Linked DNA regions of Homo sapiens. The protein of the gene in region 1 purifies or fractionates together with the protein of each later gene. This does not show direct contact. Each region holds a gene or a part of one and is shown in the gene's direction. Other genes may lie near its edges.

What was found.
Region 2: the proteins of POMP (region 1) and PSME4 fractionate together in Homo sapiens (co-fractionation; one large-scale study listed by IntAct). This does not show direct contact.

Annotation. Positions count from the first base shown.
Region 1 is NC_000013.11:28,669,095-28,672,916, forward strand, and holds part of POMP (proteasome maturation protein), read left to right. Parts: intron 1-3,244; coding exon 3,245-3,338; intron 3,339-3,822. UniProt on the Homo sapiens protein: Molecular chaperone essential for the assembly of standard proteasomes and immunoproteasomes. Degraded after completion of proteasome maturation. Mediates the association of 20S preproteasome with the endoplasmic reticulum.
Region 2 is NC_000002.12:53,918,862-53,922,683, reverse strand, and holds part of PSME4 (proteasome activator complex subunit 4), read left to right. Parts: intron 1-99; coding exon 100-167; intron 168-1,579; coding exon 1,580-1,795; intron 1,796-2,333; coding exon 2,334-2,491; intron 2,492-3,437; coding exon 3,438-3,533; intron 3,534-3,822. UniProt on the Homo sapiens protein: Associated component of the proteasome that specifically recognizes acetylated histones and promotes ATP- and ubiquitin-independent degradation of core histones during spermatogenesis and DNA damage response.

The DNA of each region.
Region 1 (3,822 bases):
TGTTGTCTTTTAAAACAAAAAAAAATTGTATCAATTTCAAATTCCTTTATAGTAACTTGTCTCTCATTGAGTGTGCTTTTGCTTCTTGAAAAGTTGTCTACATTTGCTTTCTATACTCCTTTCCCTGCTATTTATTTAACCCACTGTTTCTGTCTCCCATGACACCAATGAAACTGCTCCTGAACAATGTGGACATTTTTACCTTCACTTTACTTCATCTCCCTGTAGTATTTGACACTAATAATGGCTTCTTCCTTTTTCCCTTGGCTTTTATGTTTTTACTTTGTATTTATTTTTTTGATACAGGATCTCATTCTGTCATCCAGGCTGGAGTGCAGTGGTATGATCATAGCTCACTGCATCCTCAAACTCCTGGGCTCAAGCAATCCTCTTGCCTCACTCTCCTGAGTAGCAGGGACTACAGTCACTTGCTACCTCGCCTGGCTAGTTTTAAAAATTATGATTTGTAGAAACGGGCTCTTGCTATGTTGCCTAGGCTGGTCCTAAACTCCTGGCCTCAAGCTATCATCCCACCTCCTTGGCTTTTAGAACACCACACTTTCCTGATGTCCTCCTTTCTGAATCCTTGTTCTCAGGTGTCTCTGTGTAGGTTCCATTTGTTTTGCCTGTTTCCTAAAATGCCAGTTTTGTTAGTGCCCCATCTCTAGTCCTTTCCTGACCCTATTTCCTACTTGTTGCTTTAGTTATCAATTATATGTTGATGATTCCAACTGGGCGTGGTGCCTCACACCTGTAATCCCAGCACTTTGGGAGGCCAAGGTGGGTGGATCACTCAAGCTCAGGTGTTCAAGACCAGCCTGGGCAACATGGCAAAACCCCATCTCTACAAAAAAAAATACAACAAATGTGCCAGCCGTGGTGGTGCACACCTATAGTCCCAGCTACTCAGGAGGCTGAGGTGGGAGGATCATTTGAGCCTGGGAGTCGGAGGTTGCAGTGAGCCGAGATCGTGCCACTACACTCCAGCCTAGGTGACAGAATGAGACTCCGTCTCAAAAAATAAAATATGTTGATGACCCCCAAGTTACAATTCTCATGAGCTATAAACCTATAGGCTTTTCCAATTGGAAAGCCCAATTGGAAGTCCCACAGGCACCTCCAGTTTTACATGGACAAGTACAGAATAACTCATAATCCCATAATCCCCCACATACTCCTTATCCCATATGAATAGGTTTCTGCCTAAGGCAGAAATTGGATAATTAGCCTTGGTTATGTCACCTAGCACCCATCCTAACCTCTTCCCCTGCTCCCCCAAATCATTCAGTTTATTACTTGCTCTCCCCACCATTGCTACTATGCTGGTCCTTGCCCCTGTCAGACTTCATCTGGATTACTGCAACACTCATCCCTGCTGCCCCTCCAATCCTTGTTAAGACTCTAATCAGAATAATCTTTGTAAAACACAGATTTGATTATGTCATTCCCCTCACTTTACCCTCTAAATAAAAATAAAACCCAACACTTAGTGTGGCTCTGTCCATGAATTGGCTCCTTGCTTCCCACCACACTTCTTATCCTCTTAAACTACTTGCAGTTTCCTAATTCATTAAGTTCTTTCACTGTTAGGCGTTTGCACACATTTCTCCTACTGGTGCAGATTCCTTTCTCTGACCTAGCTAAATTGTCTTTTTCAATAAATTTCTATTGGCCGAGCTGGGTGGCTCATGCCTGTAATCCCAGCACTTTGGGAGGCCGAGGCAGATGGATCACCTGAGGTCAGGAGTTCGAGACTAGCCTGGCCAACATGGTGAAACCCCGTCTCTACTAAAAATACAAAAATTAGCCAGGCCTGGTGGCATGTGCCTGTAATCCCAGCTACTCGGGAGGCTGAGGCAGGAGAATTGCCTGAACCCAGGAGACAGAGGTTGCAGTGAGCCAAAATCACACCATTGCACTCCAGCCTGGGCGACAAGAGCAAAACTCCATCTCCAAAAAAAATAATAATAAGATAAATTCTACTAATACTATCAATTGTATTTGGCTAAGTCATTCTGGAAGCTACTCGTTTTCCAAAGATAAAGCTCTTAAAAAACATGGTTTTGAGTAACCTAGGGTTGAATCTTGGCTTAGCCATCTACTAGTCTTAAGAACTTGAGTAAGCTGGAGAGCTTTCTGAACCTTAGATTTTTTAATTTAATGTGAAATAAGGAGAACAGTAAGAGTAGCATAGGATTATTCTGAAGATTAAATGAAATCACATGTTTGGCACAAAATTGTTAGCTTCCCTTTTTATTTTCCTCTTACTCAGATTTCAACTACAGATTGCTCAAATTCTGGATTTAAGTTTTTAATACTATTTGATCCAAATATCTTTGCCCAGAATTCTCTGTCTTTTTTTTTTTTTTCTTATCTCTATACTTTTGCAGTTTTGGGTTGTCAAGATGTATAACAGCTGCCTGCTCCTCCCTGCTTTTGATGCATTCTTAGGACTGTACTCTGATCTAACTACCAGACCCCTTGCTGTCTGGTTTAATTTACAGGTTCCTATTTTTGTTTCTTCCTCTTCCTCCCACTTCCTTTTTTTTTTTAGGTTTGACAATCTAGAGAAATTTTTCCACACTATAAAGATTTTAAATATCTCTATGGAACATTAGTAATTGAAAATAATATATTTAGTCTGGATACATTTTGTTGGGGGTGGGGGGAATGTGAGAAACTGCCCTCTTAGATTCTAACGGTGTGATTATCTTTAAAATACTACTATCATTTAGTCAAAGACCACCTATTTTGGTAGTCTGTGGGAATATCAAAAATTATCTGCATTAGCTGGGCTTGGTGACATGGACCTGTAATCCCAGTTTTAGTGGGAGGATCACTAGAGCCCAGGAGTTTGAGACCAGCCTAAGCAACCTATTGAGTTGGACTTTCTTCAGGAATTTGATCATCCTACATGTATCAGGAATGAGGCGTGATGTTAAGCTCTGGGATTTTGCATTTCATTACATGGTATATGCCGTAGTTTTCCTGAGCAGAAGCAAAGCCTCAAAATACATGCACACCAGGTAGGATTATTGTTAATGAAAAGTATAATTTCAGTGTCTTTACAACTTAGTTTGTGTCTAAAATATGAACTAGTGTTTTTTTCCACTTGTTAAATTGATCTTGTATTTGGTTTTGCGAATTTTCAAACAAAGAATAAAGAACATGAAATTAGACTATATATTCTGTCATTTTCCCCTGAGTTTTTTCTAATCTTGTCCCTTCATACTTTTCCCCAAAGGTTCAGCGTCTTCCATTTCTTTCAAGCTCAAATCTTTCACTGGATGTTTTGAGGGGTAATGATGAGACTATTGGATTTGAGGATATTCTTAATGGTAAGTGTCATTCAGCACCTTTTTATGGAGCCCTTGTAATTTAAAAGGCAAACAGCTGCAAAAAGAATAGGCAAAATTCTTGTCCTCATGGAACTTACAGCTGATTGGGTTCACTTTATTCATTGCATTAAGATAAAGTTTAATGGTAGTAACTGTTCTTTAACTGTTTTTAAAAGTGAAGATTGGCTGGGTGCGGTGGCTCACGTGTAATCCCAGCACTTTGGGAGGCCGGGGTGGGCAGATCACCTCAGGTCAGGTGTTTGAGACAAGCCTGGCCAACATGGTGAAACCCTGTCTCTACTAAAAATATAAAAAGAAAAAAAGTGAAAATTATTTATGAAATTCTAAGAGTACATAGTCATTTCAGTCTAGTAATGGTGGTTATTCACTTCATGTCCTGAGCTTCAAGTGTAATATGTCAGTCTGATATTCCTAGGGTGACTTAAACAATGATAATTATTTCAGAATTCACATTGTTGGGATG
Region 2 (3,822 bases), on another chromosome or scaffold:
TTCCTCAGCTATTGGAAATATTAAATAGAAGTATTTTAAAATGCTATATTTAGTTGAATGCATAGGTTTTTCCCCCTAATAGTATTTTGCTGTTTTTAGATGATGATGTATTAAATGATGAAGAGCTAGACAAGGAATTACTATGGAATCTTCAACTTTTGTCTGAGGTATTGTAAATCTTTGGAATAAGAAACATGACTGTGAAAACACTGACTTGCTTTTAGGATTTAGCTCTTTCTGACAAAATGACTTTAAAACATATGAAAAGTCAGAGTTTTGGAAATTTGATGAGGCTTCAGAAGATCAGAATATGTCATACTCTTATTGTCAAAGGAGTGGTGTAGTTGATCACTGCATGTTCAGCCATCTACTTAGTTTTACCAGTTAATTCTAATATGGGTAACTCATTAATTGAAAAAGTTGATCAGATTTGGGAATTTTTTTGGTCTACACTTTAAATTTGGCCATCAATCAAACTTCAGTTTTCTTTTCTTTTCTTTTCTTTTCTTTTTTCTTCTTTTTGTCTCACTATCGCCCACGCTGGAGTGCAGTGGTGCAATCTCGGCTCACTGCAAACTCCGCCTCCCAGCTTCACGCCATTCTCCTGCCTCAGCCTCCCAAGTAGCTGGGACTACAGGCATCCGCCACCACGCCCGGCTAATTTTTTGTATTTTTAGTAGAGACGGGGTTTCACTGTGTTAGCCAGAATGGTCTCAATGTCCTGACCTCGTGATCCGCCTGCCTCAGCCTCCCAAAGTGCTGGGGTTACAGGTGTGAGCCACCGCGCCTGGCCCAAACTTCAGTTTTCTTTTTTTTGAGACGGAGTCTCGCTCTGTCGCCCAGGCTGGAGTGCAGTGGCACGATCTCGGCTCACTGCAAGCTCCGCCTCCCGGGTTCACGCCATTCTCCTGCCTCAGCCTCCCAAGTAGCTGGGACTACAGGCGCCCGCCACTACGCCCGGCTAATTTTTTGTATTTTTAGTAGAGACGGGGTTTCACCGTTTTAGCCGGGATGGTCTCGATCTCCTGACCTCGTGATCCGCCCGCCTCGGCCTCCCAAAGTGCTGGGATTACAGGCGTGAGCCACCGCGCCCGGCCAACTTCAGTTTTCTTTATCATTTTTTTCAGAAGTTTAATTAGGGCCAGGCGTGGTGGCTCACACCTGTAATCCCAGCACTTTGGGAGGCCGAGGCGGGCGGATCACTAGGTCAGGAGTTAGAGACCATCCTGGCCAACATGGTGAAACCTTGTCTCTACTAAAAATACAAAAATTATCTGGGCATGGTGGCGTGTACCTGTAATTCCAGCTACTTGGGAGGCTGAGGCAGGAGAATTGCTTGAATAGAATAGACTCTTTTGAAAGGGATGTTACTATGGTGCATGAAAGCTTAAGCTCAGAAAATGTGTTTGATTTCAAAAAACAATTAATTATTAGAATGCAGTTAAAGTGACAATCCTAAAATTAATTAAAGTCATTTAGAGAAACACTAGGTTAGTGGCCAAACATTGAACTTTGCATTAATGATTGGTTCTTGTTCTTTTAACCAAAATATCTTCAACTATTTTTTCCCTCCTTTTAGATTACTCGAGTGGATGGAAGGAAGTTGCTTCTTTATAGGGAGCAGCTTGTAAAGATTCTCCAAAGAACCCTACATTTAACCTGTAAGCAGGGTTACACTCTGTCTTGTAACCTTTTGCATCATCTTCTCCGTTCTACCACACTTATCTACCCTACAGAATACTGCAGTGTGCCAGGTGGCTTTGACAAGCCTCCTTCTGAATACTTTCCTATCAAGGCAAGCATTTTCAGTACTTTAGGATTCAAGAATATGTTGATTTTTTGTTTTAAGGGATTCAAAGTGTTATTTTTTCTTGCATATGTTAGTTTTTTACTTTTAAGATAGATTATTGAAACTATTATTGGAATATGTGAAACTTGTGCTGTCTCACTTTGCATGGAACTGAAACTCTAGTTTTCTTTCCTATTGATATGTGAAACAACTTCGTATATATTCCTTATCTAATGTCTATAGTTCAATATAATTTTATTGCTAAACTAAGCCTCACTTAAACTCATCATCACTCTTACAGTATCACTCTTAGAGCAAACTCATATTATAATGAGTACTCTTCGGGGAGACTTTTTTCAGGAGTGATAACGAAGAGGCAGTAAGATGTTGTTTTCATGCTACTTTTTTGTATATCATTTGCTACCTTAGGTTTGGATTATGTGTACATTTTCTTTTAAATTTTAAAAATTGTGTATATGTATGTGGGTTTGTTGTTGTTGTTTTTAATTTCTCAACTTGCTGAGTAGATGCTGTTCTCTTCTAGGACTGGGGCAAACCCGGGGACTTGTGGAATCTGGGAATCCAGTGGCATGTTCCTTCTTCAGAAGAAGTGTCTTTTGCCTTTTATCTTTTGGACTCCTTTCTTCAGCCTGAGCTCGTCAAACTCCAGCATTGTGGGGATGGAAAACTTGAAATGTCTAGGTTGGTTTTATTTTATAATTAGAGTTATTCAGTTGCAGACTAAAGAAGTCTTTTTTGGCTTTATCTGTGGCATATCTCATGTATTAATTTTCAATTGTGTTTTGAAAATCTGCTATACATGTACTTAGAAAATCATTTAATATAATGTTGTATAACAGAAAATTTAACAACATTTAAACATTTTAAACCCAAAAATTGTGGGTTTCTTTTTCTAATTTTTTTTATTACCTTCTACTTAGCAATTTCACTTGTCTTTTGGAAGGTGTGTGTAGATATGCCTCCTTTGAAAGGAATGCCTGTTTTCCTAGACTCAGCTAAGATTTTATTGGGTTCTCAAAATTTTATTTTAAGAATTATTTTTATGAGATTTTTTTTTCCCTCTCCCACAGGTATTTAACAAGAAATAAGTATTTGAAACCATTAGACTTTCATAGTTTGAAAGTTTCTAAAATAATAGCAAGAAAATTAATGTATCAAACACCACAAATTTTTCATAAGCAGATTTAAGAATGCACTTGGAGAAAGAAGTGTGACTGACTAACATCAACTCTGTCGTACTCTGAACTGCTTTTTGGAAGTAAATGTTTAGTCCCATTTTTAAAAGATGGAATAAGCTGGAAGATCTTCTGTAGCATTATTTCCTCTTTTTGTTAGTGGCAGTGGTCTTTGGTAAAGGGATGCTTAAATTAACAGTTGTTTCACAAAGGGCAGTTAATTATTGTTACTTGTGATTTACTTAGAGCCTGTTTAAATGTAAGCAGGCATAGTGTTAGCAATAAATATATATTTAATTGTTCTTCACTGTTAAGTTGGTAAACTGAAGACATTTGCTATTTCTTTACCTTAATCATTTATATCCCCACGTGAGAAAACTTCTGTGCTAGGCTCTAGCAGGCTTATTAAATAGGGATTTGGAAATATGAAAATGTCTTTTTTTTTTTTCTAGAGATGATATTCTACAGAGTCTGACTATAGTGCACAACTGTTTAATTGGCTCTGGAAACCTCCTACCTCCGTTGAAAGGAGAGCCAGTTACTAACTTGTAAGTAAAAATAACTGTTTTCCACTTAACATATATTTTAAGTCTTAGTCACTTAATGAGTTATTGGTTTGTTGTTGTTATTGCTTTTATTTCTGTATCACTTTAACCTTTTTATTTGTCACTGTTAAGGTCAAAAATACCAGAGGTACAATTTAGATTTATAAACCTGAAGGCTTTATTCAGATTTTCACATGGTACCAGGATAGAATAACTTTAGGTATTAATTTTAAAATATCAAATGTGGAGATATTAAGTTAGTCTCTTAGTTTACTGAGTTAATTAAGATAAA